Regions from separate parts of the Homo sapiens genome. Here region 2 is linked to region 1. A link means that fine-mapping ties the variant in region 1 to the expression of a gene that starts in the linked region. Tissue or cell type: fibroblasts. Region 1 holds a variant in brackets; the other region holds the start of a gene. All regions are shown on one strand. Distances are between the middles of the regions.

What was found.
Region 2: it holds the start of C4orf33, and the variant in region 1 is fine-mapped to the expression of C4orf33 in fibroblasts (GTEx, PIP 0.96).

What each region holds. Positions count from the first base shown.
Region 1 is chr4:130,080,584-130,097,234 of GRCh38, forward strand. No RefSeq gene overlaps it. Among named protein-coding and RNA genes, the nearest start is that of LINC02479, 290 kb to the right of the region's middle. The variant A/G (reference allele first, on the strand shown) is at 9,220.
Region 2 is chr4:129,083,670-129,100,320 of GRCh38, forward strand. It overlaps C4orf33 (chromosome 4 open reading frame 33), which reads left to right and starts at 12,483. Exons shown (of 6, transcript NM_001099783.2): 1 at 12,483-12,540. SCLT1 (sodium channel and clathrin linker 1) reads right to left here and starts at 9,870. Exons shown (of 21, transcript NM_144643.4): 1 at 9,401-9,870. The coding sequence starts at 9,434. RefSeq lists an enhancer at 9,565-10,134.

The DNA.
Region 1 (16,651 bases):
TTCAAAAGCAAAATCTTGGTGCTGGGTGTGTTCATCACTAGTGAATCGTGATATTTTTCGGCTTGCTTAGCAGATAGAGCAAGCAAATATGTTTATATAGTAATCCATATCCTATTACTGGTAATATTTAGTTTTGATAATTTTTGAAACATTGAATATTAAAAACAAAGTATCTGAATGAATTTTTTTCAACAGAGAGGATATTTTAAACATTGATTTATTTGAATTTTCTTAGCTGGTGGCAGGTATATAGATTAAGAAAATATCATCTTGATTCAGTTAAAGATTGGACAGATTGAATAGTGGATTTAACTCTTCCCGAGGCTTGGTCTAATTTCTTTTTCTTAGAAATAGTCTCATTTAAGAATCTAAGGTGTTTGTGGGCCCTCTTCATTGGTGGAATCTGAACCTTGTTCTACTGGCACTGGAAGACAGCCAAAGTTTACTCAGCTTCCCGGCTTCTTAGCTGCTGTTTTCTGTTTCATCTGTAGGGCTAGGGAATTGGGCAGTTTCTCAAATGGGGAACCAGCTCAGGGTACATTCACTTCTTTGGATTCCTGCCACTCCTAGATCTTGTTCCCTCATGTCATGGCAGTTCTGTAGCCCTAAAATCCAATTATTGTTTTTCTAGGCCTGTGAAACTTTCAAAATCTCTGCTTGGGGCCTTTCACTTCCTTATTTCTTGCTGCTTATAACTGGGGGCAAATGGCTTGACAAAAACGCGGGGTGGGATGTCAGGATCACTTCATTGAGTTTCCTTGGTATCCATGATCTTGATTGCCCAAGTCCTATCTGAGGTAACTCTCTGACACCTTCAAACACATATATATTTTTGAGTATATTTTATCCACTGTTTTAGTTGTTCTTGGAGGGCGGTTTGGTCTACCACAAGTTATTCTATGGCAAAGTAAAAATAATCTATAAGAAAATGCATTAATCTCAAATCTCATGATTAATAGGTGAACATTAATTTTAGTTATAGAATCTAAATATAGTCTTACTAATTCAATGTTTTTCTTTTATGGATACTCACAATGATATCCTGATGATTAAGCTGAATATTTTTAAGGTATTTATTTTTGGCTGAGAACTAAGAAGAGTTTATAAGAACTTTTTTAGCTGAGTAAGTAACCATGTTATGTGTTTTTAGTAATGTTTAATTGAATATTGAACACTGTTTTGAAAAAAGGCATGGCTTCATATTCCCCAATAGTAAACTAATATTTTTATTAATAAAGCATCTGATATGTCACATTATTATCTCTGGGTTGTTGGCTCAAGTAAAGATTAGCCCCACCTTGTATATCAATTCAAGGAAATAAATTCTATATGCTATTTTATTTAAAAAGGTTAAATGAAATGTCATTCGGTTATTAGAAAATTTCAGTACTTGGTTGATTGTGAATGCTTCAATATAGTAAATAACACTGAACTTTAAGAATGGCAGCATTTGTGGAATAAAAGTTAAAATTTTGTAAGGGCTCTGAAAAGTTAAGTGATAATGTGATGTTCATGAATATAAGTGATGGTAGCAGTGAGATAACTGTTTTTAGTTAATTTCTTTTTTCTATTACTTTTTCAAAACTCATGATTGGAATATTTTATATATTATTATACTTACATTTGTTTTATGATTATACATACTTTTATATAATTATTTTAAATAATTTGCATTAATATGTTAATTCTTAGATTATATTAGAAGTATTAATAAGAACATTTTAAATATACATATAAATGTGGAGAAAGTTAATTTGAGTGATAAATAATAATAATAATGTGTAACACAGTGTGTTAATAAGAGACTAATCAACTTAGTCTCTAATTCTCATGTCTAACTTGTACTGTATCAAAGAATGGCTTTAGGACTGTCACATTGTAACTTTCAAAAAGAATATGGCCTACAGCAATTTTAATGAAAATTCATTAATTATGACAGTTTCCCATGCTAATATGTATTCTTACTTATTCTTTCTAATGGTCTTATTATAGCTACATGTGAAGTCACTCTTATCCACCCAACCTTACACATATGAAAACAGAAGCAAAGACATGACAAAACAAATGCAAAGACACTATAATATTCTATTTCTCTGCATCCCTGGAGAATCATCTAATATTTTTATGGAATGAACTAAATATACAATTTTATTTCTGTTCTACTTTTCTTTTTTAACGAACAATAGCAATTTTAAAAGGATTTTATTTAATCACATTTTTTTCATTTGTTGCAAATATAATAATCAAATTTCCCCATAACAATATATATTACAATCAGAGTCATGATCAGCATGGAACGCTTATTATTGTCAAACATTCAAATGCTTGGACACTTCTTGCAGTAGTAAATAATAGTGTATAAACTGCTAAATTCTAAAAAAGACACAAGATCAAGTTTAAAAAGTGGGCCTAATTAATTGGTATTTATTTATTCATCAGTTTAAAAATACTTTATTTCTCTGGAATCATTTGTTCTGTAGATGCATTTGTAAGTTGTTTGTTTTGTAGATGCATATATAAAAGTTATGTTATATAATCATAGATTCTACAAGACATAAGAGATCCTAGAGGTCATCTAATAAGAATCCTCTTATCAAAGATAGTTACAATCCAAGACTTCACTGTTTGTTGACCAGAGAGTTTGTTGAGAAAGTCATCCTAGATATTTTTATTTTTGTCTAGAACTCTTTTCTGCTATGAAATTACACTTTCAATATGATGAACTTCTTTAACATTCTCTCATTATTATACATGCTGCTTTATGGCAGCTGAGCAATCTTTTGGCATATTTACACACAAAATCATGCAACAATCACAGCCCTATCAGTCAAAGCTCATTGGTTTCCTGTTCCCTAGTAGAGACACAGAGATTTATTCCCCCAAGTTCTCTTTAATTTTTTGCCATGTTGTGGGCCTGTGAGCCCCTTCACAACGTAATGTGCAGTTGAAAGTCCATTTCTCTGCTCTGTTTAGTGCTCCAATCAGAGGCAGATTTCTGGACATCTGTTTCCCACTTAGTATATATTTTCTGTATTGTGTCTAATATGTATGGTTCTATAATTGAAAAATTACTCTCTGTAGCCCAGGTGGTGTTGTACAGAATAATTTCTTCAGTATTGATTTAAGCAGTTGATGGTTGCATTGGAGAAGGAAAGTCATTCAATTGTACCAAAGAGCTTTCAGTAAAAAACAATTTGTTAAGCCTGTACTAAATGGCATCTTCAAAAGATATCTTCAGTAATAATCTTAAATTTAACTCTAAGATTTTCTCTGCATTATAGCATTGTGTTTTCTTTTATAGTGAAGACATTTTTAAAGAAAACAACAACAAAAAGATTTTGCCATGGGTGATTGCTAAGCATTAAATTCACTAATTTTTTTTTCTACAAACAAATTGCTCAGCTGGCATGTGATTGGGGGATATAATAGTAGTCAGCTTTCTTAGAAAAACAGCACAGCAGTCTGCTCTTCAGTTTCTATTTTGGGGAAAGTGTAGAATACTCATTTGCTATAGTTTTCTTATTTTAAAAAAACCCTTTATATTCTGGAATTCTGCTTCAGTTTTCTAATTTGAAACTATTCACACCAAATGGTTTCATGCTATTGTTTCAGCCATTTCTGTGGTTTCTATGTTAACCAAAAAGCTGGAATTTGTATATTTGCCAAATTTGCATCACTATTTACACATGGCAAAAAGTTCATTGCCTCCTGTTGGTTATTACCTTGACTGACATTACATGAGTGGTCTCTTCTCCCCACACCCAGGTCCCCACTTCTCCATGGTCTTTAACTTCTCCTGGTTTTTCTTTTCTCCATTGCACTTGTCATATTTTAACCTAGTTTTATTAAATCTTTATGATTATTGTTTATTATCTGTCTTTCTTACTGAAATGTAAGCTATATGAACAATGAATTCTTGTATATTTAATTCAGTCATATATCCCAAGTGTCTAAACAGTGTCTGGCACTTCATAAGTATTGTTGAACGAATGAATCTGTTTTTTTTTTTTTAATTTTTTTGTTCTGAAGATCCATTGGCATAAATCTGTTTTATTCAAGTAATTGTGAGTAATAATGGTATTCTTCAAAAAAATAATTTATTAAGCAACACATATGTGGATATCTTTACACTATTTCCAAGGAAGAAATTATAGTTCAAAGATATCCTGACTCTAAATAGTTTACTTAGATTAATATAAAACAAAAAGAAGTTTCAAAAAGAAGGCTCCAAAGTCAAGGGAGTTTCCAAATTCTGCTGAGAAGAACACTGGGAAAAGTTTTATGGTGGGGGTACCTAAGTGCAGTCTTGAGCTGAAAACCATATTGTCAAACGTTTTCAGTTGATCTCTTTCATCATCATTAGTTTCTACATGAGGTTTAGTAATCCATCCTGAGTGCTTTGTTCTCATCTTGACGGATAATCTTTTCCCAATCTACTTTGCATGATGAGTATACAATGGCTGTTATGGTTTTGAAATATTCTTTGTTTACATTTACATTTGTTAAAGTAGACATGAGATTTCATATCTACTTATGTCCTTACATGTTTAAATATTGTGATGCCTACTAATATGAATCCTATTTATCACTATTCAAAGCCTTCAACTTCTTGAACATGTGATAATATTTGTTTAAAAGGGCTGTATCTATATCTAATTTATATCTTTGTCTATCTACATTTTTATGTATAGATCAATTTAAATATAGCAGGCATATTTATATAAATATATAAAACACATATAGTATATTTACATAAATATAAATGCCATAAATTTATAAAACAGAGAAAGAAAAATAGGAAAGGAGAAAGGGAGACATCAAAAGCCTACAATCTTGTCCTTTAAAAAGTACCCATTTCTGGAGTTCAGAAAGCAATTACCATGAAGAACAGTGTGCCAGGCCAGCAAATTCTGTGCAGCGTGTGGTGAGGTAGATGGAAACATCTAGAGAACTCTTTTTACCTAGGTTCAAAACAAGCCAGGGCTTAGAACCAAAGCAGACTGAATGGTTCAATTTTTGTTGGCTTCTCAGCTCACAAACTAAAATAAACACGAATCCTATCGCTCTAGCAGGAAAGAAAGATAATAAAAATCTACAGATAAAAGTTAAACAAAAGATCAAGAGAATCCTATGGCTAGAGAGCAGCTCCATGGCTAGTGCCTTTCTTCTGAGCATTCTCACGAGGCATCTCCTGAGCAGAAGTGCAGTCTAGCTGTTCATCTGAGTGTCCCAGCCGCATGGGACAGAGCATGGTCAGAGGAGGGGGGCGGGGGGGAAGTGACAAAGACAGAGAGGTGAATGTGCTTTCATGAAGTGGCTGTAGTCTAAGACCCTGGTTATGTCTTCAGACCTTAGAGAATATGAAGTTCCAATAATAACCATCATTCCATAGGCTCTGAATCCTAATCTGAATCCTTGAACTTGACAGATAAAGAGCAGTCTTCCTCCATGAAGGTAAAATGAAGGAGGCAACGGAACAAGGTGGTGAAACTGTCCCGTTTTACTGGGGCCTGATGTTGACAAAATAATTGAAAAAATATTACTATATAATAGAGTCCCAAATTATACAATAAAAATACTGGTGAGAGGATGGATGTTACATCTTCAAAGGGAAAAGCCTCAAAGGAAATAGAGAATGAAATTTAAACACCATAATCTTTTGTTTAGTTCTTAGGCAAAGAAATTTACACTGTAAATAAAAACAAATATATTCTATATCTTTCTCATGTTACAGAAATTTTATAATAGGAAACAGCATATCTTTCAACATCAACAGAGTATATGCTTTAGTTAGGCTGAAGAAAACAATTACTTCACAAATGAGTCTGCTAAACTGCAAACTTCCAAAAAGCATTTGGCTTTGTACAGAGAAAAATTATGGGTTTTGAAATGAGGTAGGAGGAAAGTGAGCACTGGAGGACCCCCTCTTAGGCCCCCTTGCTTTGTCTTTTATGCTCTGTGACCTGCTCCTTCTTTCTGAATAGGGTTTTCTTGTTACTGGAATGTCAAGCTCTTAAGTTAGATTTTGATCCTAGAGAAAATCTGTAGACAACACATTATGAAACGTCTTCAAATAACTGTGGCTTTAACCCATATATGCTAATACAAATTAACAACCAGAAACAAATGATTTATTATCTTTGATCTAATGTTTTTAGGCCTCAAACTTCTTTTTTTCAAACATTTGAGCAGGTTTTATCAACTATTTTGCACATTTGAAAACAATACTTCAGTAGATTTTGTCTGCATATATTTTATACACATATCTTTAATGTTTTATTCATTGTTGCTAAATATTATACTGGATCCATTTCTGATAAATTGTTGAGATTAAAATATGTAATTTGTTTCCATAGCAAGGTAGACTAATAATGTTTCATTCACTTGAATAAGTATACATACCTCTTTAAATACATAATTTTATGATCAGAAATTGTACCATGGGTATTGGAATAATTTTTTAGTAATATATAACTAATACACTGAGATATAAATTTTTTTATCTTGCCTATAAGGTATATTATATAACAGAATATTTCATTATAGTTTATATAAAATTAGTTTCTAGAACTCAGAATTTATTGGAAGATAAACGTAGGAGATTTTGTGATGTGTAAATATGCCAATTATATGCCTAACGTGGTTTTTTTTTTTTTTTTTTGAGACAGGGTCTTGCTCTGTCACCGAGGCTGGAGGGGCAGTGGTGCAATCTCAGCTCACTGCAGCCTCTGCCTCCTGAGCTCAAGCAATCGTCTTACCTCAGCTTCCCAGGTAGCTGGGACTACAGGAACGTGCCACCACACCCAGCTAATTTTTCTATTTTTTGTAGAGATTGGGTTTTGTCATGGTGTCCAGGCTTGTCTCGAACTCCTGAACTCATGCGATCCACCTGCTTTGGCTTCCCAAAGTGCTGGAATTACAGGCACATATGTGATTTTTATGCATGGTTTGTTCATATTCTAATGTAGTTCGAATTATTTTAGAATGCATTATATGTGACAATTGAGTTTTGCATATTATTTAAAAGAGTTCCATTCTATCTATACTCAGCAAAGGTTGTTCAATAGTTGATAATATTTGAGGAAACAACTATTAAAAACCTCATATTTTATAAACAGTCTTTATTTCAAAATTTGTATGATATGGCTTAAATAAGAATTAGCATGGATTGATGGCCAGCTTTCAAATAAAACTGAAGATCAATTCATTTTAAGGTAATACCACTTCCTCTATTTAAGGTTGTTTTGTTTAGTTCCAAGATAATTCACTCCAATTCTGAATACTAATTTGAAGGTTTGAATGCATTGTCGTGACATATGATGAATTCAAAAGTGTGTTTGCTGCTTTGCTGAAACATAAGAAACAGCATATATAGCAATTATATTTAAAATGCACAGCTTATGTTGGACTCTGTGACAACCAAGTGACAATGATAGATCCAAATGCAATCCCGACTTAGAACGTCAATTAGGAAAATGGCAAAGGCCTTTCTAACATTATAAATTACTCTGTGGATGCCAGTAACAAAAGCTCTCACTACCAGTAATTTTGCATGATTATGGTTTGGACAAAAGATAGTTGATGAGGGTAAAACCTTGTATTTATACAGCTAAAAATTATTTCTCACTAGATATATAACTGTGAGCATGATCTCAACAGCTTCTATGACTCTAAAATACACCTATGCCAAACAGATTTCAGATTTAAGTCACATTTTGCTATGTCTTTAAATGACAGCAATAGTATTTTTTGAGATATTAATATTCCAGTTGCTAACACTCACATAGCAGGGCATTTCTATGAAAAGACATCTATGTATGTCTTGATTATTAGTTGCATCAGTTACTGACTATGACAAGTGATCCATTTTCTGTTTATTGCAAGATTACTTGTCTGTTTGGAATGTCTTAGAATATATTGTCAGTACTATACTCTGTTAGCTTCAGACTTTCAGGAAAGACTTTTTGGAATGTCTTAGAATGTAGTGTCAGTACTACACTCTGTTAGCTTTAGACTTTCAGGAAAGAATGCACAGCTTACATTTTACTTTTTGTGACAAACAAGTGGCAGTCCCTTATGACCGAATTTGTAAAGTACTTTATGTTACCTTTAAAATATGGTTCATTTCTGGATTTCTTATTACTTATAGTGTGATATATTGTTTGCTGAAATGCGTTAAAATATCAAGCATCCCCCAAATAATTATACTTGTAAATCCTTTGCTATCTGATCTTTCTACCATTGGTTCTTGAGTCTGATGTTTACACATGAAAAAATTTAGGGATTAGTGAGAATTCAATACTTTCATTTTCTCTGGATTCATAAAATTTAAAGTTAAAAAACATCTTAAAGGATAGGAAGTCTAAGCCCTTCATTTTACACCGGAGGAAACAACAACTCAGAAGTGAAGTGATTTCTTTGAGGATGGTAAATTGGAAACTTCAACAATGTCACAAAAAGTCAAGATCCACTAATAGACCAAATGCCTTTTTGGAAGATAGTTAACCTCATAAATAATTGCTTTTCCATCCCCTCTGAATATTTAGTACTTTGAGTCAACATCCATTCAGAAAAATAAAAACTACTATATTATAGATATTTCAAACAGAATAAAGTTTAACTCAGGGAATTGATTGTAAATGTGTTGGAAGGTCGTGAAAGGGCCACTATCGATGGGGGATATTGACAAATACAAAAAAAAAAAAAAAAAAAAAAAAAAACCCTCGCTTTTTTCTTTCTTCCTTTCTTCCTCCAGTTGCTCCAATTAGGCAACCTTGAAAAAGCCAGATGACAATACCAAGAGATCCATAACAAATTATAAAGGTTGATTGCAAAGCTGACAGTAAAGCCAGAGATGAGATAGTTGAAAGAAGCACTTCTGCTTCCAGCAAAAGTAATGCATGTTCTGTGTTCTCACATATGGATGTGACAATGCCAAACAAATAATATGACTTTGGATAAGGGGACTTTCTTCATTCAAGAGCAACTATCAGGAGGAGGGGCTTAGCTCTGGGCTTTCAACCATTACCATTATCAGTATCTGGGGGGATGAATGCTTTTGTCCTGAAGAAAAGGGATTTGGGTATGCATCACAGTGTCCAGTACTATGGTAGACCCTTCTATAAGCTGATTAAAAATTGGATTTTTAATCATATTGTTCCAGCTTTCGGTGAGCAAATGTTTTTAACCTCTTGCAAAATGGAACACATTCTCACTGAG[A/G]TGATGCTAATGAAAATACTCACATGTAGCTGTGCCCCTCTCCAGACTTAGTGCTTCCTGTCCCTCTTCCTTTGCTCCTTATTTTATGAATGTGGGTCTAAGTCATTGTTCAGTGGCCCCTATGGAAGTGTTACTTACTTCATCTCACTTATTTAAATATTGAGTAAATTTCTTTCTTTTCCTTCTGTGCACCTTCTTCACCCCACCCTAGCCAGGTGGGAGATTTTCTCTTCACTATCAGTGAAGGCTTCAAGATTTTCTTTGACGCCTTATGAATAAATAACTCTTGATGGCCAGAGTCAGCAACATTAGAATGTGCAAGTCGCTTAGGTGAGCTGGAGGAATGCATAACCTGGTTTTTTTCCATAGTTCCTCCAAATGAAGAATAAGGGTTTTCCCTATGTTCCTGACACCAAAAGAGAGATTCAATATTGTCAGCAGATGGCATTGCATCCAGGGTCTTTGGGAGGGAAACGGTTCGTTCATCTATTCCATCCCCTCAACTCCTAACTCTTGTGACCAGGATTACTCAAACTATAGCACCTTTACTGCTGGTTATTTCCTCACTGAGCAATAAATACAAAAATCACCTTAACAATGAAACATAACATTGATAGGTGACAACGTGCTAGCAGCCCTCTCTCGCTCTCGTGCCTCCTAGGCCTCGCTGTCCGCTCTGGCAGTGCTCGAGGAGCCTTTCAGCCCACCTCTGCGCTGTGAGGGCCCCTCTCTGGGGCTGGCCGAGGCCGGAGCCGGCTCCCTCTGCTCACGGGGAGATGTGGCGCGGGGCGGGAGTTGGGGCTGCGTGTGCCGTGGGCGAGCAGGGGTTCCGGGTGGGCACAGGCTCGTCGGGAGGAGGGCACTGAGCACAGCCAGCTGGCGCCTGCTGGGCTTGGTCAGGAGACAAGCTCCCTGTGGGCTGCTGGAGGGCTAGGTGCCGCAAAGTCCTACAGTGAGTGCCATTGAGAGGTGAAGCCAGCTAGGCCCCTGGGTCAGGTGGGGACTTGGAGAACTTTCCAGTCTAGCTAAAGGTTTGTAAATGCACCAATCAGCGCTCTGTCAAAATGGACCAATCAACTCTCTGTAAAACGGACTAATCAGCTCTCTGTAAAATGGACCAATCGGCTCTCTGTACAATGGACCAATCAGCAGGATGTGGGTGGGGCCAGATAAGGGAATAAAAGCAGGCCACCAGCGCCAATAGCAGCAACCTCCTGGCTCCCTTTGCGTGGTGTGGAAGCTTTGTTCTTTTCACTGTTCGCAATAAATATTGCTGCTGGTCACTGGGTCTGCACCATCTTTATGAACTGTAGCACTCACCGCGGAGGTCTGCAGCTTCACTCCTGAGGCAAGTGAGACTGTGAACCCACTGGAAGGAACGAACAAATCCAGACCCGCCGACTTTAAGAGCTGTAACACCCTGAAGGTCTGCAGCTGAACTCCTGAAGTCAGCGAGACCACAAACCCACCAGAAGGAAGAAACTCCAGACACATCTGAACATCTGAAGGAACAAACTCCAGACACACCATCTTTAAGAACTGTAATACTGACCGCGAGGGTCCGCGGCTTCATTCTTGAAGTTAGCGAGACCAAGAACCCACCAATTCCGGACACAACACACCCATCTCATTGTTGGTATATGTATTTTTCTTAATCTCTTAGATATGACTGAGACTTTTTTTTTTTTTTTTCTTTGAGACAGAGTTTTGCTCTTATTGTCCAGGCTGGAGTGTAATGGCACAGTTTCGGATCACTGCAGCCTCTGCCTCCCAAGTTCAAGCAATTCTCCTGACTCAGCCGCCCAAGTAGCTGGAATTAACAGGCATGCACCACCACATTCGGCTAATTTTGTGTTTTTAGTAGAGACAGGGTTTCACCATGTAGGCCAGTCTGGTCTCAAACTCCTGACCACAGGTGATCCACCCACCTCAGCCTCCCAAAGTGGTGGGATTACAGGTGTGAGCCACTGTATCTGCCCTATGACTGAGACCTTTTATGGCCTTGTGTGTGAGGTGTAGCTTCCAGACATCATTGGGGACAAAGTTATTCACACTAAAATCAAAGTAGTCTTTGTGTTTGAAGGACCCCAAGCTTCCTAGCTTTCTCGCTGGAAGTGGAGAAGCTGCTGCACTGAGTTGATGGGATCTATTTGTCAGGAGCACAACCTCAGCAGCTCTCTTACATGAAATGATGTATCCAGTTGAAAACTTTCTGCTCAGTTTTGTTGTCTGAGAGCAGCCAATGCTGCCCTATGCTTTTGAGCCTCCAAAATAGCTCTATTAATACTAAGAATCTGAGGGGTCACTACTGTCTGTGACAGCATGGGCTGTTCTTCTAGATTTCTTCAGAAAGAGTTTTTATGCATCAATGTCAGCCTTGTGCTGCCTGCTCTGATTTCCCATACTCTGCCGTACTTTACCTTGTCGTATTGCTCCCTGTTTGTTTTTTTAAATCTCACAACTTAACATGCATGTGCAAGTCCTCTCTCTCTGATGCTGATATCTAGTAAGAAACTTGACATATAAGTCACTGGTAACGTCCTCATTACTGAAAAGCCATTCAAGAGCTGTCAGCAACATTGACAGAGGCATTTGAGAATTTGAGAACATAGGTAATCCTAATGGCTAACCCTGAAAAAAATGTATTAAATGCCATTGCTTCTCTGTCTGCTGCCTGACACCTCTCATACAGTGGCACGTTCTCACCACAACTCAGTTTCTCTCATATCTGGCACATTTCCTTCAATGTAGCGCATAGTTTCTGTCATCAGTTTCAAAATATTCTTAACTAACCATATAATCGTATTTTAGCAGATGAAAAAAACAGATCACAGAATCAACCAAAGCACAGCTGTCTTTTGAATGAATACTGAAAAATCTTAAGAAATTTTGAGTTTTTCAAAGCAGAGTTGAAGGCCAATACCTAGTCTGTGACTTCTTAAGAGTTTTTTGGATACTCCCAAGTTAGCTGACAAATGCTTTGTGAAACATTGTATCATAAACAATGCATTCCTCTGGCTTCCACAGAACTAATATAGGAATTCAGAGTCATTTCCTTGACTTTCTTATGACATTCAGATTATATACAAAGGACCGTTGTTCAATTCAGAACCCTGAATTTGAGAGTTTGGCTGTCACAGTGAAAGATGTGTCCTGGTTAGTGTGATCTAAAGCGAAATGCCACTAAGTGCTGCTCTGTTTTTATAAATAACCAGATATGACCGTCCACCCAAAGGCAGCTTTTATTTTTGTCTCATTCCAACTCTGAAGCACAACACAGATGTTCTTAAATTACTCTAAAATACAAATTTCTGCATAAGCCAATTACTGATCTACATGGTTTTTAACAAAGTATGTCATAGGAAAAAATTAGGTAGTTTGCGTTGTGCAGCTCATAAAATTTTACTCCTAAGTGCACACGAATACACACAAACACACTAAATGAGGCTTCTTTTAAAAACTTATATCAATGGTTTCAAGTCGCATAAACTTTCTTTCTTTCCCTCCACTTTCCATCAATTTTCCAGCCACTATAATCGCTCTTTTTTTATGCAGAGCAATATAGCTTAATCTCAAGTTTACAATATTTTCTATCTACCATTTTTTGGAGCTCAGCCTCCCAGCCTCCAAGGAAACTTATGAAAGTACTGTGAAATACTTATTATTTCTTCATCTGTTATTAAAGGAGACTTATTAAAGTATTCAGCCAACATGTGTAATCTAACTCTGAGAGGTGGAGTGAGCTGGATTATTTTACTGATAATAAGATAAAAATAACGTTTTCTTGTAATATATCAAAAGGAAACAGCAAAAGACATTGTATGAACAGAAAGTTCCTGGCACAGATAAAGTATCCTTTAGCAATAAAATTGTTTTAAAAACAACCTTCAAGAAATTGCAGACTTAAAAGATTAAAAACCTTTAATAGGTATATGTAGTAAGAGCTAAGATTAGAGAAGTCTGGAACAGTTATTTACATGTGAATAAAAAAGAGACAAGAAGAAGCAACAGTAGAAGCAATTCAACACAAAAACTACTCTCATAACCACCTTCAGATCAGCATTTTATAGTTTATTGTGTACAGTTACATCTTTAATAACTGTACAGTAAAATAGACATAGTTCTCATTTCATGGGTAAGGATTTTCAACTTACTCTTATTGTAGTTTTACAGAGACACATATATTTTTATGGACCTGTGCAGAGACTAAATGGATTTCACCTGACTATTGTAGTCATGATGTGGGATCTAAAATAGAAAAGCAGGTCAGCAGCATGCTGTATGAACTGATTCCTGAGCATGGTTTATTTATATGCATGGGTGCACCACCTGTTATACAAACAAAAATGGTAATGCTTTTTACTCTCAGGACTACAGCTCCCCCCAATCATTCTTTCCCCCTCCATCCTATTAGCTTATTTGAAATAATTTGATAAATAATTCAAACATAACTTGTTATCTGGTCTCTATGAGTTCAGCAGTTCTATAAGCAGAAACTTTTAAGAATAAAAAAGCCTACTAGAAATATATATATATATTCGTCAAGATATATATAAAATATATATATGGATATATCAAGAAATAATAACCTGAACAGCCAACAAAAAGCTAGTAACTTTAGAAACTGTAGTAAACAGTATTATTCAATTATAAGCCAATTGGCTACTGAAATAGATTTTATACATTAATTAATATTAAATTTAAGAGATCTGTGATTTTACTGTTTTGACATATCCTAACCCTAATTATCTTTAACTTAAAAATAACACAAGGAAATGAAAACATGGGATGAATTTTCAAAGAAGTGTCAGAAACAAAGAAGAAATGAAGGGAATAGTGACCATGCCCTTGCCTTGGTTTGAGATATTAGGATTGATTTTAAGTGAGTGTGCAATTAGATTGGACAACCAGGAAGGTTTTGCCTAACTCAGTGAAACTAATTTACCTTTTTACAAGCCAGCAATAAATTGTTTTCTTTTTATGATGCTCTCCACCGAAAGTGATTTTTAAAAATATGAGTAGTTTGCAGTTTTACTTTTGCTCTAAATACAAAGGCAGTATAGTACATATGATTCCTTATGATAACCACAATAACTTGAAAATTTGATACCTCGATTTATTTCATGTCTCTTTTCTTCTCAGTTTACATTTCTTCTGAATGCAGCTCTAGTTTGACTGATAAATAACCACGTTGTTTAACACTACTTTTAGGCAGTACTTTATCTCATTGCCTAATTCGTCATTTCTGTCTTTCATTGCAAAACTTGAAAATTTGTTCCTGATGTCACATAACAAAGGCTCATAACAAAAAAATGGAACACACACACACACGTATATGTATATAAACTGCATATTATATAGCCAAACATTTAAGGTAACTAATTTAAGAAACTAGTTACCTTAAAGATTATGTCCATGTATGAGGAATTTGGATCACATCTATGAGAATACATTTTCATATGCTTTTTACTTATATATTAAGGAAACTAGCTATGTTGGTTTGTCCTTGATTGAATCCTGACAGCTTGCAAGCTATGTGTATTCTGCCATCACAGATATTTTTCTAAAACACAAAGGAACCATGTGCTTTGTTTATTTCCCAAATCCCAAGGGATAGAAACCCAAACTTTGCAGTGTATCCACAAAAGAGGGAATCTCTGCTGTTTTCATAACACCGATATCAATTTTCACTTGCCTGGTAATAGCACCTTGATTTTTCTCCTGTTATTTGCACCTTCTGTAATGTAGGCTGTCTTGTTGGGACTCAAGTCCTATGAGATAGAAAAGCAAACTTTATGGGGTAATTCCAAAGGAGGGAATCTGTACTTTTCATTGGGCCAACATTAATCCTCACTTCCATGGTAATGGTGCCTTGATTTTCCTTTCGTGATTATTCCTTCTACAAAGCTTGTAGCTTCCTTGGGCTAGGGAACTAGCTTGGCCGTGTCACTAATACTAGTCAAATCATGCTTTACCTTCTGGGAATTTAAATTTTGAGGAAAATAACAGAAGAATGGAAAATAATTGGAGCTGTGGAATCCACGCTCCTACCCTTTATCTCTGGTGAAATCTTTTCACCTTTTGTAATTTGGTTTTTTTTTAACTGAGAGATGAATGTGCTACTATAGGTTAATTCAGAGGGCTCTATTCACTGAGATTCTCCCTCGTCCATCTCCCCTTAAGCCCCTTTTTGAAATATTTTATTTTAGACTCAGAGGTACATGTGCATGTTTGTTACATGGGTATATTGCATAATGTTGGGGATTGAGGCTTCTAGTGTACCCATTACCCAAATAGTGAACATTATACCTGACAGATAATTTTCTCACAGCCCTTCCACCTTTCCTACTTTTGGAGTTTCCAGTGTCTATTATTTTCATCTTTGTGGCTATGTGTACCTATTTCTTAGTTCCCACTTATAAGTGAGAAGATGTGGTATTTGATTTTTCTGTTTCTGAGTTAGTTACTTGGAATAATGGCCTCCAGCTCCATCCATGTTGCTGCAAAGGACAAGTTTTCGTGTTTTTTTAATGGCTTCATGGTATTCCATGGTGTATATATACCACATTTTCTTTATCCAGTCAACTGTTAATGGACAATTAGGTTGATTCCATGATTTTGCTATTGTAAATAGTGCTGTGATAAACATACAAATGTAGATGTCTTTTTAATATAGCAATAACTTTTACTTTGTGTAGATATCCAGTAGTGGAATTGCTGGGTAAAATGGTAGCTCTGTTTTGAGTTCTTTGAGAAATCTCCATGCTGTTTTCCACAGAGGTTGTAGTAATTTATATTCCCATCAATGATGTCAAAATGTTCTCTTTTCCCCATATCAACACCAACATCTGTCATTAAAATGACCACACTTCCCAAAGCAATATACACATTCAGTGCAATATCTATCAAACTGCTCATGTCATTTTTCACAAAAGTAGAAAAAACAATCTTAAAATGCACATAAAACTAAAAAAAAGAGCCTGAATAGCCAAAGGCATTTTAAGCAAAAGGTAAAAAATTGGGAGACATAACATTGCCTGAGTTCGAATTTTACTACAAGGCTGTAGTAACTAAATCAGCATGGTACTGGTATAAAAATAGACACACTGATCAGTAGAATTGAATGAGGAACCCAGAAATAAAGCCACATACCTACAACCAACTGATCTTTGACATAGCAAAAATGAACAACAGGAAAGGAAACCCTAGTCAATAAATGATGCTGGGAAAGTTGTCTTGCCGTATTGCAGAAGAATAGAACTGGACCTCTACCTCTCACCATATACAAAATTTAGCTCAAGATGGAATAAAAACTTAAACAGAAGAGCCAAAACTATAAAAATCCTAGAAGAAAATGTGGGATAAACTCTTTGGCACATGAATGTAAATTAAAACCACAATGAGATATAATCTTATGCCAGTCAGAATGGCT
Region 2 (16,651 bases), 1.0 Mb before region 1:
AAAAAAAGAAGAAAGATCTCAGGAGGAATTACAAAATAAATTTTAAAGTATTTTGAAGTGAACAATAGTGAAAATGTGATACCTCCAAACTTGCTTAAAGAGAAATCTGTAGCTTTAATTGCATATACTAGAGAAAAAGTCTGAAGTTACAAATGCATTCCAAGAAGTTAGAAAAACAGCACCAAATTAAATCCAAAGAAAGCCAAGTGGAGTAAATAAAGATAAGCCCAGAAAATAAAGAAATTGAAAATAAACTCACAAAAAATGATAAGAAATATGATCATCTCAAAAGTTATTTTAAAAAAGCACCTGATGAAATTCAAGATATATTCATGATAAAGCCTTATCAAAGTAAGACTAGAAGGGAACACTGTTATTATAATGAATGCTTACGTAAAATACACAACAAACATCATACTCATGAGTAAAAATGTTGAAAACTTTCCCTTGAATTAGGAATCACATAAGGATAAATTCTTATGACATTTACTCAACACTCTATTGGAGGTCTAAGTTAATGCAGTAAAGCAAGTAAAAGACCTAAAAGACACAAAGGCTGGAAAAGATGAAACAACTGTCATTATTCATAGTTATGAGTGCATATGTGATTAATCCAAAAAAACCACAGATACATACTTAAAAATCAATCATGAAGATTAACAAAGTTGTTGGATACAAGGTCAATATATAAAAATTAATTATATTTCTAGATACTGGCAGCATAAAGTTAGAAAACAGTAAAAGATGCTATTTATAGTACCATAAAAAAAAATAAATGCCCAGTAATAAATACAACAGAAGATGTTTAAGACCTCTACACAGAAAACTATGAAACGTTTCTCTGGAAAAAACTTTAAAATTCATATGAAACCAAAAAAGAGACTGAATAGCCAAAGCAATCCTAAGCAAAAAGAACACACCTGGAGGCATCATGTTTCCTAACTTAGAACTACACTACAGGGCCACAGTAACCAAAACAGCATGGTACTGGTGCAAAAAACAGACACATAGGCCAATGGAACATAATAGTGAACCCAGAATTAAGGCCACATACCTACAACTATCTGATCTTCAACAAACCTGACAAAAACAAGCAATGAGGAAAGAATTCCCTACTTTAAATGGTGCTCGGATAACCGGCAAGCCATATGAAAAAAGACTGAAACTGGACTCCTTGCTTACACAATATATAAATAATAACTCAAGACGAATTAAAGACTTAAATGTAAAACCCCAAACTATAAAAACCCCGGAAGACAACCTAAGCAACACCATCTGGACACAGGAGTAGGCAAAGGTTTCATGACAAAAATGCCAAAAGCAATTGCAACAAAAGCAAAAATTACAAATGGAAACTAATTAAAATAAGGAGCTTTGGCACAGCAAAGGAAACTATCCACAGAGTGAACAGACATGCTGCAAAGTGGGAGAAAATTTCTGCAAACTGTGTATCTGACAAAGGTCTAATAGTCAGCATCTATAAGGAACTTGAACAAATTTACAAGAAAAAAATCCCATTAAAAAGTGGGCAAAGCTCATGAACAGACACCTTTTAAAAGAAGACATATATGCGGTCAGCAAGCATACAAAAAAAAGCTCAACATCACTGATCATTAGAGAAATGTAAATCAAAACCACAGTGAGATACTACCTCACACCAGTTAGAATGGCTATTATTAAAAAGTCAAAAAATAACAGATGCTGGTGAAGTTGTGGAGAAAAAGGAACATTTATACATTTTGGTGGGAATGTAAATTAGTTCAACCATTGTGGAAGACAGTGTGGCGATTCCTCAAACACCTAAAGACAGAAATACCATTCGACCCTTTAATCCCATTACTGAGTATACACCCAAAGGAATATAAATCATTCTACCACAAAGACACATGAGCATGTATGTCCATTGCAACACTATCCACAAGAGTAAAGACATGAAATCAACCTTAATGCCTATCAATGGTGGTCTGGCTAAAGAAAATGTGGTACATGTATACCATGGAATACTATGCAGCCATAAAGAAGAACGAGATCATCTCCTTTGCAGGAACATGGATGGAGCTGGAGACCATTATCCTTAGCAAACTAATGCAGGAACAGAAAACCAAGTACGGCATGTTCTCAATTATAAGTGGGAGGTAAATGATGAGAACACATGGAGGGGACCAACACACACGGTGGCCTATTGGAGGGTGAAGGGTGGGAGGAGGGAGAGGATCAGGACAAGCAACTAATGGGTATTAGGCTTAATACCTGGGTGACAAAATAATCTGCACAACAAATGCCCATGACACAAGTTTACCTATATAACAAACCTGCACATGTACCCCTGAACTTAAAAGATAAATTTTAAAAAAAGAAAAACTTAAAACAAAAAATTAATCACAATACAAACCTCTTTTTTTTTCCCTGACAGAGTTTTCAATTAAGAAAAAAACTAGATCTGTGTCCTCAGTAATTAAAATAGGATAAGAAGTAAATTATGTATTAATAATGAGGGAAACACTTTCAATCTTCATAGATTGACTATAATCTGGAGAAAATTTTACTGTAACTTAAATGTTATTATTTCCTTCATTCTACAAGTACTTATCTGGCTTGTTTAATTTGCGTTTCCTGGATACCTGAAGATGCTGGTGTATGTATGTATATATATATATATATATATATACACACACACATTCATTGTTAGTTTCAATTTACTAATATTTTATTTTGGATTTTAGTTCCAACATGCATAAGTGAAACAGGTTTACAGTTTTCCTTTCTTGCAAGTATGCTTTTTGTGTAGCAGTTAAGAAAAGAGACACTGAAACTAGACTGCCTGGGTTCAAATCCCAGCTCAGTCACTTACTAGCTCTGTTAACCTTGACTTTGTGAAGGCACTTATCCAGAGGGTTCAGCTATCTATAGGTACTAAACAGCATTTGGTATGAGAACTGTAAAGGCAAACCAACCAATCATGGCATGAGGTGTTACTGGGCATCAGCTATAGAAAAGCAGGGGTATAATCATATTAAGATTACTGACAAGCGCAGAAGGACTAATGGGCAATGGTTACAGCCTGTAAAAGACACCAGTAAAAACAAACTGGGAAGCAGTCAAGGTGGTAAAGAAAATGAAGGGCTCAAAGGATGAGGAGGTCAAAGAACAGTTATAGTAGGAGTAAGATACTTGAGTTTAAGACATCAAAAAGTAGGGCAACTTGAATAGGACTTCTGCTTATACTCAAGAAGAAATAACATGGACCACTTTTCTGCCTGACACACATGAAAAAGCAAGCAAAAAAATCATCAATACCTTATAGTACACTAGACATCAGACAATGATAATCAGAGACAAGAAACAAATGAGGTAAGCCCTATGATTGCCCCACCTTAATGACTTAAGAGACTTTCCAGGGCCATGACACGGGGGGAGGAAATGCAAGTGGAGACCACTGGACTCTTATTAAGAGGTGGAGCTGAGAAGTAGTGGAGATTAAGTGAACTAGAATTGGCAGGACAAAGGATAGAAGACTGCACAGAGAAAGAACCCTAGGGAATGTGAGACCTGCAGAGGTTCTTCTCGAGTACAATACAGAGTACTGAATAGCTCTTTATTTATTAAAGAAATTAAGTTTGTATTTTAAAACCTTTCCACAAAGAAAACTTCAGGTCCAGTTGGCTTCACTGGTGAATTCTATCAAATATTCAAGGAAGAAATAATATCATTTTATACATACTCTTACAGAAAGTTGAAGAGTACAAAATATTTTCCAAGTAATTCTATGAGGCTGGCATTACCTGATACTAAAACCAGACAAAAATATTGGGAAGGAAAAAAAAAAAGGCACTTTAAGAGGCTGAGGTGGGAGGATTGCCTAAAGCCAGGAGTTCAAGACCAGCCTGGGTGACAAAGGGAGACCCGGCTTCTACAAAAAATAAAAAATAAAAATATTAGCCAGGTGCAGTGGCACATGCCTGTAGTCCTAGCTACTCAAGAGGGTGAGGCAGGTGGAGGGCTTCAGCCTAGGAGTTCAAGGTTGTAGTGAGCTACTAGTGTACCATTAACTCCAGCCTGGGTGACAGTGAGACCCTTGCGCAAGTTAAAAAAAAAAAAAAAAAAAGGAAGAAAAAAAAAGAAAAGCAAAAAACCTTCATAGGTTGGGCATGATAGCTCATGCCTATAATCCTAGCACTTTGGGAGGCAAGAGGATCACTTGAGCCCAGGAGTTCAAGACCAGCCTGGGAAACATAGGGAGACCCTATCTCTACAAAAAGAAAAAAAAATTAGCCAGATATGGTGGCATGTGCCTGTAGTCCCAGCTTCTCAGGAGGCTGAGGCAGAAGGATCGCTTGAGCCCAGGAGGTTGAGGCTGCAAAGAGCCGTGATTGTGCCACTGCACTCCAGCCTGGGCAATAGAGGAAGATCCCGTCCCAAAAAGAAAAAAAAAAAGCTGAACACACTAAAATTTTAAACAAACATTTATAAAATAAAATTCAACAATATAGAAAAAGGATTATACATCATGAGCAAGTGGAATTTATCCCAGAAAGGCAAGGTGGTTTTAACATTTGAAATTAATCAATGTAATTTACTCTATTAACAAACAAAAAATGAAAAAATATCTTTTAATCTCAATGGATGCAGAACAGCATTTTTAAAAATCCAGCATCCATTTTGATAAAAACTCTCAGCAAATTAAGAATAGAAAGGAACATTCTCAACATAAGAACGTCTATGAAAAACCTACAACTAGTATCATACCTAATTCTGAAAGACAAATGCCTTCCCCATAAGATCAGGAACAGGATATGGATGTGTATTCCCACCACTTCTGTTCAATACTGTACCAGAGATTCTAGCCACTGCAATAAGGTGAGAAAAAGAAATGAAAGGCATCCAAATTGAAAAGAAATAAAACTTTTTATTTTCAGATTACAAGATTATCTACATAAAACTACTGACAGACTCTACAAAACTACTAGAGCTAATGAATGAGTTTGGCAAGGCTGCAGAGCAGAATATTAAAGAACGTTATTTCTCACCACACATCTACAGCCATCTGATCTTTGACAAACCTGACACAAACAAGCAATGGGGAAAAGATTCCCTATTTAATAAATGGTGCTGGGAAAACTGGCTAGCCATATGCAGAAAACTGAAACTGGACCCTTTCCTTACACCTCATACAAAAATCAACTCAAGATGGATTAAACACTTAAATGTAAGACCTAAAACTATAAAAACCCTAGAAGAAAACCTAGGCAATACCATTCAGGACACAGGCATGGGCAAAGACTTAATGTCTAAAACACCAAAAGCAATGGCAAAAAAAGCCAAAACTGACAAATAGGGTCTAATTAAACTGAAGAGCTTCTACACAGCAAAAGAAACCATCATCAGAATGAACAGACAACCTACAGAATGGAAGAAAATTTTTGCAATTTATCCATCTGACAAAGGTCAGATCCTACCCACAATCTACAAAGAACTTAAGCAAATTTACAAGAGAAAAGCAAACGATCCCATCAAAAAGTGGGCAAAGGATATAAACAAACACTTCTCAAAAGAATATATTTATGCAGCCAACAAACACATGAAAAAATGCTCATCATCACTGGTTATTAGAGAAATGCAAATCAAAACCACAATGAGATACCATCTCACACCAGTTAGAATGGCAATCATCAAAAAGTCAGGAAACAACAGATGCTGGAGAGGATGTGGAGAAATAGGAATGCTTTTGCTTTTACACCGTTGGTGGGAGTGTAAATTAGTTCAACCATTGTGGAAGACAGTGTGGCGATTCCTCAAGGATCTAGAACCAGAAATACCATTTGACCCAGCAATCCCATTACTGGGTATATACCCAAATAATCAGAAATCATTCTACCATAAAGACACATGCACATGTATGTTTAATGCGGCACTATTCACAACAGCAAAGACTTGGAACAAACCCAAATGTCCATCAATGATAGACTGGATAAAGGAAATGTGGCACATATACACCATGGACTATTATGCAGCCATAGAAAAATATAAGTTCATGTCCTTTGCTGGGACATGGATGAAGCTGGAAACCATCATTCTCAGCAAACTATCACAAGAACAGAACACCAAACACCGCATATTCTCACTCATAAGTGGGAGCTGAACAAGGAGAACACGTGGACACAGGGAGGGGAACACCACACACCGGGGCCTGTTGGGGAGTGGGGGACTAAGGGAGGGATAGCATTAGGAGAAATACCTAATGCAGGTGACGGGTTGATGGGTGCAGCAAACCACCATGGCATGAGTATACCTATGTAACAAAACTGCACGTTCTGCACATGTACCCCAGAACTTAAAGTATAATAATAAAAAAGAAATGTTATTTCTACATACTAGCAACGAAAAATCAGAAACTGAAAGTAAAAGAATAATACCATTTACAGTAGTATCAAAAATTTCAATACATAGGCATAAATCTAACAAAAGATGTGCAAAACCTAAATATTAAAAACTACAAAGTATAGCTGAGAAAATTTAAAAAGATACATCAATGATGTACAGAAGAACCAATTTTATTTTAAAACTTACTATAAAGCTGCAATAATTAAGACAGTGGGGTACTGGTGTCCAGACAGACAAATAAATCAGTGGAAAAGAATAGAGTTCATTAATAGATCCATACATATATAAACAACTGCAAAGGAGCAAAGGTAATTCAATGGAGAAAGGGTAGTTTTTCCATTTGGGCATCCAATGCAAGAAAGTGGCCTGGATCCTTACCTCATCCCTTGTATAAAATTTAACTGTATGAACCATAGATCTAAATGTAAAACCTAAAACTATAAAACTCCTAGAAGAAAATATAGAAGAAATCTTTGCAGCCTTGGGTTAGGCAATGATTTCTTTTATGACACCAAAAACACAATTCATAAAAGAACAAATTGATGAATTAAATTTCATCAAAATTAAAAATGTTTGGCTCCAACACTATTAAGAGAATGAAAAGAAAAAATAAGTCCATCACCACTCTGCCAGTGAGTCTCACACCCCACTAATGAATGAATTCTTAGTTCCTTAGATTGATAATGCAAGTACCTCTTTGAACAGGTTCCTAAAAACTAACTGATCTTTCCCAGACAAAGGTGGAAGAACGGTGCACAGCAAATATGCTACAAGCTTACTCTACTAGTAGCCTGGTTGAGTGTGGAGCTGCCTGTCGTTATGATATGTAAAGCTGAAATAGTAATTATCAGAGGAAATGTCATGTGGGGACATGAGAGTTGAGAAGTACCAAACATGAGTTGAGAAGTACCAAAACATGAGTTGAGAAGTACCAAAACAAATGGTCTTGACCTGGGCTCCCAAATCCAAACGGAACAAAGAGACAATCAAGATCAACAGAAATCAGTGTAGAAAAAGTCAGAGGCAGGTGGAAAGAAGGCAAGTGATCTATCTTTATCTGGGCTGGTATTTAGGTGGGTCACTTAATGGAATAACCCACCACCTTCAAATGGCATGCAAAATCCGGTTAAAGAAAAAAGGAGAGCGACACAGACACTCAACTCTCATTCTTATCTCTTCATGCAAACGCTACCATTCTATGCTCCGATTTCCTGAATAAAATCAGTTATTTTAAGCCTTTGAACCATTCCTTCTTCTGCTCCTTCTGCTTGAGATTTCCTTCTTGCACTCCACTTGTCTTCCATGGAACTATTAAATACCACTCATTTTTAAAAAAATGTTACTATGCTTCAGTTGTCTTATTTGTTTTCCCCTGGTATTTGGATCTCAGTTTTATCTAAGAATTCTGGCTGGATCATTCTTATAAAATTAATAGTTTCTGACCACCTCAAGTACTATCCTGACTCTAGCCAAACTCCTCATCAACCAATTCCTGTCCCACACTACTCTTACGGTGGCCAGTTAGCTGTTCTTATGGGGTGGGGATATTCCCACTGCAAACCTAAGAAATAATGCTAATGTTATTGTGTCATTATAGTGTCATTAATTATTTTAGATAACATATACCATGCACTTAATATGTGCCAGACACTATGCTCAATGCTTTTTCATCATCTCATTTAAGTCTCACAACTTCAAGAGGATTCTTGTGTTCTTATACTCATTATATAAATGAGAAAACTGAGGTGCAGAAAAGCTAGGAAACTTGCTCGAGGTCACAGACCTGGAAAGAGGTAGGCTGTGAGCCCAGACAGACTAAATCCAGAGGCTGACTGAGTTCTTAACCACTGGTCTATAATGCTACCAAAACGGAACTTACTACCTTTTTCCTAACTTCCCCGTTGCTCAAGCAAAAACTAAGTTGCTCTCTACCTCTTTCTCTCAAATCCCCTGATCTCCAGTCTCCCTGTGCCCAACTTAGTTTACTTCTTACCTGAATGATGACAGTAGACAACTAACTGCACTCTGCTATAATGCATATTCCCCGTAAAAATCAGACCGGGCCTTCTAAACTACAATTTGATCATGCCACTCTCAACTGAATTCCTATAACCCATGCAATGGTCCATACTCCTTAGCACAGAGAAGACAGGGCCCTTCACCATCCAGCCCCTTTCTACGCCTTCAACTGCACTTGCCATTTCCCTATATAAATATTCCAATTCAATTTACATCAATATTACACTCAAACCAGCCGTATTGCAAGTCTTTAACAAAGCATATTCCTAATCCCCTCAGTGTCACAAATATTGTTCTATTTGGGATGCCTAGAGTTTTTCATATAGTAAATTCATATTTGTACTGCACGTTTCAGCCCAATAGCACCTTCCTTGAACATATTTTAATAATAATCGTGTAATAGTTAATATTTGTTTAACACAATGTATCAGATACTATTCTAAATCCTTTACATATTTTAATATTCATTTAATCTTTCCAACAACCCTATGAGACTGTGGCAAAAGAGCCAGCAGTTGCTGTCACTTCAATATATTTTGGAATACATTTCCCTCCCCAAATTAAATTCTTGGAGGTAAAAACTGTCCTGTTTATCTTTGCAGCAGCTGTTCTTCCATAGTGTCTGGTACATAATAGAAACAGGAGTTCAATAAACATCTTTTTAATAAATGGCCAGAGAGCTGTGCCCCTAGATTTTAAATGCACACTTGGAAACTCCTGCTGGCCATTAGCCTTCTAATCTTCAGAGCACGAGAGGAGCATAACAAACATGTTTAGCGTCTAGTAGAATTCTGTGTAAGCTACAAGTACTACCACACGGTTCTGCTTAAATATACACACATCCTCACGTATAACATCAAGGTTTTTTTTTTCCTGCAACTAACTTCTTTAACTCTTTACCAATTTAAATGTACCCAACCAGCATTCAAAAAAGATTTGTCGGTCAACGACGACGATATTAAACATTGTATATGAAGTCTCAAAAAAACATGGAGCTTACTTTGCTCTCTCAGAAAGTCGATTTCTGCAGCCATTTCGATACAATTTTAGTTTAGAGCTTTCACCACCTTTACCTTCCTCTGAAAGACAGAGAGCTTGCTGTGCGGGAAAACAAAACTAAGCCAACGCTCGGTTGGTTGTCAAGCGCTCCAGCGGTGCAATCTGCATCCTACTCACGCGGCATCTACAGCCCCGCCACGCTTCTTTCCCCCGCGCCCCAGACGAGTCCCTGGCCCTGGTGAGAGACTGAAGATTGCTGGGGACTCCACGTTCAACCGAATCCCACGCTGGTGGGAAGAGGACGCGGTCGATACAGGCGTCCCGCGGGTCACTCTGGGTCTCGTCGGGCCACCTAGGAGAGTGCCGCGGGAGCTTGACGGCAGCCTGAGAGCGGCGTTCTACGCGGAGCGGCGGGGGTTGGAGAGGACAACGCCAAGACGGCTGGGAAGCCCCAGGCCAGCAGCGGAAGTCCACTCGGCCCGCCCTGCGACTTTGAAACCGGTGCCCCGGACCACTCCTTGGAGACGGTGGCGCCTCTTGCGTCATCACGCGGGCGTTGGAGCTTACGCCATCGCGCGTCCTAGAGTCCTAGCACGCTATTGGCTGGCTGTCAAGCAATGGGAGGAGTCGTGAGAACCTGGATGACAGCGGGCTGAGCCACCGGCTTGGCGCGGCGGCCAAACTGGTGGGACAGTGTCTCCAGGTAGTGAGGCCCAACCTCTTTAAAACAAACAAACAAACAAACAAAAAACCAAAATGCAAACGTGAGTAGAGAATGAAATACACAGTTTAAATGCCCTCACTATCTTTGGGTTACTAATATACTAAGCCTTTCTGGACTAAGTAAAAGATGCAGGTTCCTGCGGCTAGGGATAGAAGCCAGACTGGCGTCTTCAGAATCTCCCACCAAGGCTGTACCTCTGGAGGAGTTCTAGGTTTGGATTTGGTCATCTCAAGAAGGTAAGTACCTTCTCGGTCTTTGTGGGTCTTTAGACAAAGGAGACAACTGTTGTTTAAATATTTAACTGTGTAGTAATAAAGCGTGTAGTTAGAAGTACTCAAAAGATCTTGCAAATTCAGCAGCTACTTCTTCAAAGATAAGCTTGTTTCCTCAAATATAAGGAAAGATAAAAGGTACTTTTTTTTGCAAAAAACAAAACGGTAAAACTTACATTTGTGGATAGATTACAATTTTCATTTTTGAAAATTAATTTTGTCTGGACTTAAAACGTATTTTTTTAAAAAAAATCATTTAACATTAGAGGAAATCTCACCACTAGCAACAAAAATGTTAACTTGAAGCTAGCCACTAGTTTTGTGCTTTTAATAAATTGTATTTTTATGGACTGAAGTAAAGTTTCACTAAACAGGCATGTCATAGATGCAGCTTGATTTGGCTTTCTGTTTAACGGCTTAAGAGTTTTGTTGTCCCGTACTCATAATGTCATATAAACAAAGTAACCTTAGCGATATGTGTTAAGAAATTTTAAAAATGTATTCAAATATATGCAGTTAGGCATCTGAAGGCCTTACTCAATACTCACTGTTAATAGAATGAGATGGTCCCTTCCTCTAAAGACTAGCTGTTAAATATGGATGTGTAGCTTAATAATCATTGAAAAGGTCTAATCCAGCTTTGAGTTGGTGATAATTGAACTTGTTCTGATTTTTAGTAGCTATAACGTTTACACAAAAACTTTTTGTATAAACGTTATAGCTAAGGGAAAATTGAGTGTGCAAGGTCCAACTCGTTTTTGAAGTTCAGTATATGACTCTTTCTTCATAAACATCTCACTGACTCTCCAAGGACTTGCTTGTAACTTCTCCCACATTTGAACCTTGTATATTGTCGTATTTCTACTTGGCATCAAATAAATAATTATAGACTTAACTCTACGCTTACACCCAAACTGGATGGAAGCAAATACCTTCTGGCTATAACTGATGAGTGGTATTTACATAAAGTGAATATCTCAGGTGAAAACTTTTATGTCTGCACTCGAATTTTTTAGCTTACATGATCATAATTATGATCATGATAGTTTTTTGTTTTTGCGTTTGTGTTTGTGGTTACAAGATTTTAGTAGTTGAATTTTAATGGAGTATTTTCAACATAAGTTTCATCATTAGGAAACAAAATTGTGATGATTTCACTTATCCTTAAAGGATCCCCTCTCATGTTCCTCCTTTTCACATCTCCTGAGTTCTTTATCCACTTCTCCCAAGGTAGGTGCCACCTTAGTACTTACTTCATGCTCCTTCCTGCATTATCTGTCATGTTTTGTAGTTTGTCTCCAGGCTCCATCATAATACCTGGAACACAGAGTTGATTAAATATCTGATGGAAGGAATGAAAGAATTCAGTGGATGTTCATGAAAAGTATCTATTAGTATAAATTGAATACAAGGAATGACAAGCAGAAATGTATGTAGTTTGTGTGTAACTCTTGTCAAGCCACCATTTAATGTTTTTATATGACTTTTCTGCAATAAAGAAAACCCCTAAAGTTGTATAGATTGAAAATTAGTGACATTTCACTAACATTCATTTGGTTGATCAATTGACATTGAGCACCCAGTACTATGTGCAAAGTACCAGGAAGAATACAAAGTTAGAAGTTTAAGCAAGGATCAGAACAGATCACACAGCTGGCAAGTGCCTGAGTTGAGATTTGAACCCAGGCAGTATGGTTCTAATTTCACAATTGTTAACTGCTATGAACATGCCTCCCCAGGAATATAGTATAATATAGTTTATAGCTGGTATAATATAATTTATAGTTTTTGCTTATATGGCCAGTTAGCCTTTAGTTGTATTAAATGAAATATTTCTGTACATGTTATATTGTAATCTTAATGATTTACAGTTGATTTTCAAATTATTGCACAGTATTTATATTTCTGAATCACCCTTCCTTCTTCTAGGAAACCACTCATACTTTAGTGGAACGATTAGAAGTCTTCAGTTGTTCATGTGTGGCCCTTCAACATCTTTCTTTCCTAGAAAAATCAAGCGTCTTAGCTTCAGTGTTCTAAGCCCCTCCCCCAGAACGTGTAGGCAGCTGGGTGGAGCCTAAAGCCGAGCCCTCTCCTGTGACCTCGGCTGAAAAGAAGAAGCCAGTGTTTGAGAAAAGCTTCGTGGTCTGTGTTCTCTAGTTGTTCCCTCTTCTCTCTGACATTCCTTTCGTCGTCGCCAGGTCTTGTTTTTCGCTTGATCTCTGGAAAATACTGAAAAGTATTTTACTTTTCAGCTGTCTCCTGCTAAGTGAGCGTACTCCCCCTTTCAGGCTGACTTCCTCATTTCTCCGTTTCCCTGATAAATGGGCGGGGCCTCGGGGAGGTATGGAAACTGAAAAGAAATCATTATTGTAGAAAAACTAAAGAAATTTTTGTTGAGCAGAGGAATTTGGAAATTTTCCTTGCAGATCATTTGGTTGAGAAAACACCTTTACCATAACTTATTTCTTTTAAACTTTGCGGACATTTTTTCTTTTCCTGGGTTCTTAATGCTCCAGTGTTCGGTCTCCTTTCTCTTCCTTCGTTTCCTTTTAGAGGTCTTTCCAGGTAAAGATAAAGCAATCAGAACAATTGAAAATTTATTTTTTTAACTTGTTTTAAGAGCAATTTGAAGAATAGAGGTTAAAAGTAGAAACATACAGAGTAACAATAAATATTGTATTAAGAAAGTCTAAACAGCCAAACTTAAAATTGCATTGCAGGACAGTAATCATCTTGATAATATGCATTATGACTTTTCGGAAACGTTCAGCATATATAATATAAAGGGGAGAAGAGGCAGCCACCATACTCTTTTTAAGAGAACCGGCCTTAAATTAGACTTAAAATATATATATTTTTTTGAGACGGAGTCTTGCTCTGTTGCCAGGCTGGAGTGCAGTGGAGCGATCTCTGCTCACTGCAACCTCCGCCTCCGGGTTCAAGCGATTCTTCTGCCTCAACCTCCCGAGTAGCTGGAACTACAGGCGCGTGCCACCACGCCCAGCTAATTTTTGTATTTTTAGTAGAGACGGGGTTTCACCATGTTCGCCAGGATGGTCTCGATCTCCTGACCTTGTGATCCGCCTGCCTTGGCCTCCCAAAGTGCTGGGATTACAGGTGTGAGCCACCGCGCCCGGCCAAAAAATAATTTTAAACTGTTCAGTTACCTTAAAATAGTAATGCATGTCTGTCATAGTGTAAAATGCAGATAGGTTTTTAAAAAGTGATGAAGTTGAAAGGAAGCCTTCCTCCTTCCCATATCTGCAGGCAGATAATTCCCTTCAGGGAAGCAACCACTGTTACCACTCGTTTCTTGGATGTTTCCTGAGATAGTGTATGCCTCACAAGCATATATGCAAATAAGCTTCCTTTTTATTAAATAAATGCACCTTGCTTTTTTTCACTTCACAACATATTTTAGCATAGATGTTAATTCAGAGCTGCCTCATTCATTTTAGCAGTTATACAGTGTTTCATTGTATGGTATAGCATAATTTTTTTTACCAGTCCTCTACTGATGGGTATTTAAGTTGCTTCCAACATTTTGTTATTATGAACAATGCTACCACAAATATCCTCAACGCTTATGTCATTTTGAATATGTGCAGGTATAGTAACTCCTAGAACTAGACTTATTTTTGTCAAAGGATAGTTGCATTTTTATTTTGATAGATATTGACGTATTGCTCTTCACAGAGGCTATATCAATTATGCCTCACTAGCAATAAATGATTTTTTTCTCAATGCCTTCATTAACACAGCTTGTTGTCAGACTTTCTGATCCTTGCCAATCTAAGTGAAAAATGGTAATTTATTGTGGTTTTAGTTTGCATTTCTGTCATTATAAGTGAACATTTTGCATTTTCTCTCCGTGAACTGGCTGTTCATAATTTTTGGTCACTTTTCTGTTGGAGTGTTGGTCTTTTCCTTATTGATTTCTAGGAGCTCTTTGTGCATTAAAGAAATTAGTTATTTGTATCAAGTATGAATTGCATATACTTTTCCCCAGACTTTTGATTTTGTTAATGATAGGCTTTTGGAGTAAAGGGAACTTGGGAAGGAGGTTTTTGCTTTTTTACTATTATTTATCTATTATTAAAAAAATTCAACTTTTATTTTAGATCCAGGGTATATATGTGCGGGTTTGTCACATGGTTATATTGCATGATGCTGAGATTTGAGGTACGAATGATCCTATCACCTGGGTAGTGAGCATAGTACCCAGTAGTTAGTTTTTCAACCCTTGCCCCTTTCTTCCCTCCCCCCTCTAGTAGTCCCCAGTGTCTGTTGTTGCCATCTTTATGTCCATGAGTACCTACTGTTTAATTTCCACTTATAAGTGAAAATATGTGGTATTTGGTTTTCTGTACTTTCATGAATTTGCTTAGAATAATAGCCTCCAGCTGCATCCATGTTAGTTTTGCTATATTTATGTAGTAAAATGTTTGGGTTTTGGTTTGTATTTTAAAAGGTTTTCTCTACTAATGCAGGGAAAGCCCAGATTTGGGGCTCAGCCCAGGAGAGTTCTTGGCTTCATGCAGGAAAGGATTCACAAGCTAAAGCAAGTTTATCAGAGCAACAAACTACAGGAAAATGGCTGCTCCATAGACAGAGTAGGAGCAGCAGCTCCCATGAATTGTTGGCCAGCTGTATACATACAATTCCCTGGTTATATGCTAAATAAGGGGTGGGTTATTCATGCATTTTCCAGAAAAGTAGGAAGGGTTCCCAGAACTGAGAGTTCCTCCCTTTTTTAAACCATATAAGGTAACTTCTAGGAGTTGCCATGGCATTTGTAAACTGTCATGCCACTGTTGGGAGTTTTTTTTTGCATGCTACTGCATTATAATTAATGTATAATGAGCAGTGAGGGCAACTAGAGATCACTTTTGTTGCCATCTTGGTTTTAGCTGGTTGTGGCCAGTTTCTTTGCTGCATCTTGTTTTGATAAGATTCTGTTTCAATCAGTGGGACCTTGGTGCTCAGAAAACAAGCCCAGCTCATCTCCTACCTTACTACTATAAGATTTTATTTAACTCTCTTTTTATTTCCTGTTTTTATATGATTTTGATTTTTATGTTTAAATCTTTGATTCATCTAAAACTTACTTTGGTATAAGGATCCCACTGAATTAAATTGGACTGCAAAATGAACCAACTGATGTTGGAAACGGGTACCTCATTGATTAGTTACATGAGAACCATCCCAAACTCCTGTAGACTTATTATATATTATTTCCCCAGCACCTGGTATGGTACCTGAAATAAGATGAGTGCTTAATAAATGCTTGATAAACTAAATTGAAGGGAATTTCTGGGCTTATTATCTTTGTTATTAGCCATTGTATTGATCTGATATGTAGTGTTAAATGAGATGATGATACCACGAACACAGTAGATTTCTCCTGCACAAAATCTAGAGTGTTAGATCCAGGGACTAGAAAAATTATTCACTCAACAAATAAATAGTAACCATCACTTATAGGCATTCTAGCTGGGTTCAGGGAGTCAATAAACAAATATGTAATGCCATGTAATTGCCATGTAAGAATAGAAATAGAGCAGTGTATAGGTTAATAGAGAATGACCAGGAGGGGAGCGCTAGCCCAAGAGGTGAAGGACATTGACAATTAAGTTGTCTTTACTTAATGAACACATGTTCAAATACAAAGAAATTGAAAGGTTGTGGGGGTTAAATCTCAGAAGATTACAGAGGGAGAATCATCTGTCTCTAGTTTATGTTAGTTTTAAACTAGACTGTTAACTACTGGGCAGGACGGACTATACTTTTTAGGTTAATTTTTATAAATATTATGCATTCTTAGATTGACGTCAGTGTTCTTTAAGCGATATAAAGTTTAAAAAAAAAAACAAATTTGTCATTGCAATAAGAAACGAAAGTTGTTTATGCAATTAAAGCCAAAATTATATTCTGTCTTTGGACTGATCAGCCATGCACTATTCCCTACTTGTGGAAGTCTAGTCACTATTTTTTGCAGTAATTTTCAAATAATGCTCAAAGAAACCTTAGGGGGGAAAAGCAGAAGGAACCAGTAGAAAGGTTTGAGGTACTCACTACCTAATTCTTAACAATGGTAACTTTGCTTTTATCTTTTACTTCTTATCTTCCAGATAAAATTACATTTTGAAGTAATTTGAAACCTATGCAAGCTTGTCCAACCCAAGGCCCATGGACTACATGTGGCCCAGGACAGCTTAGAATGCAGCCCAACACAAATTCGTAAACATTATGG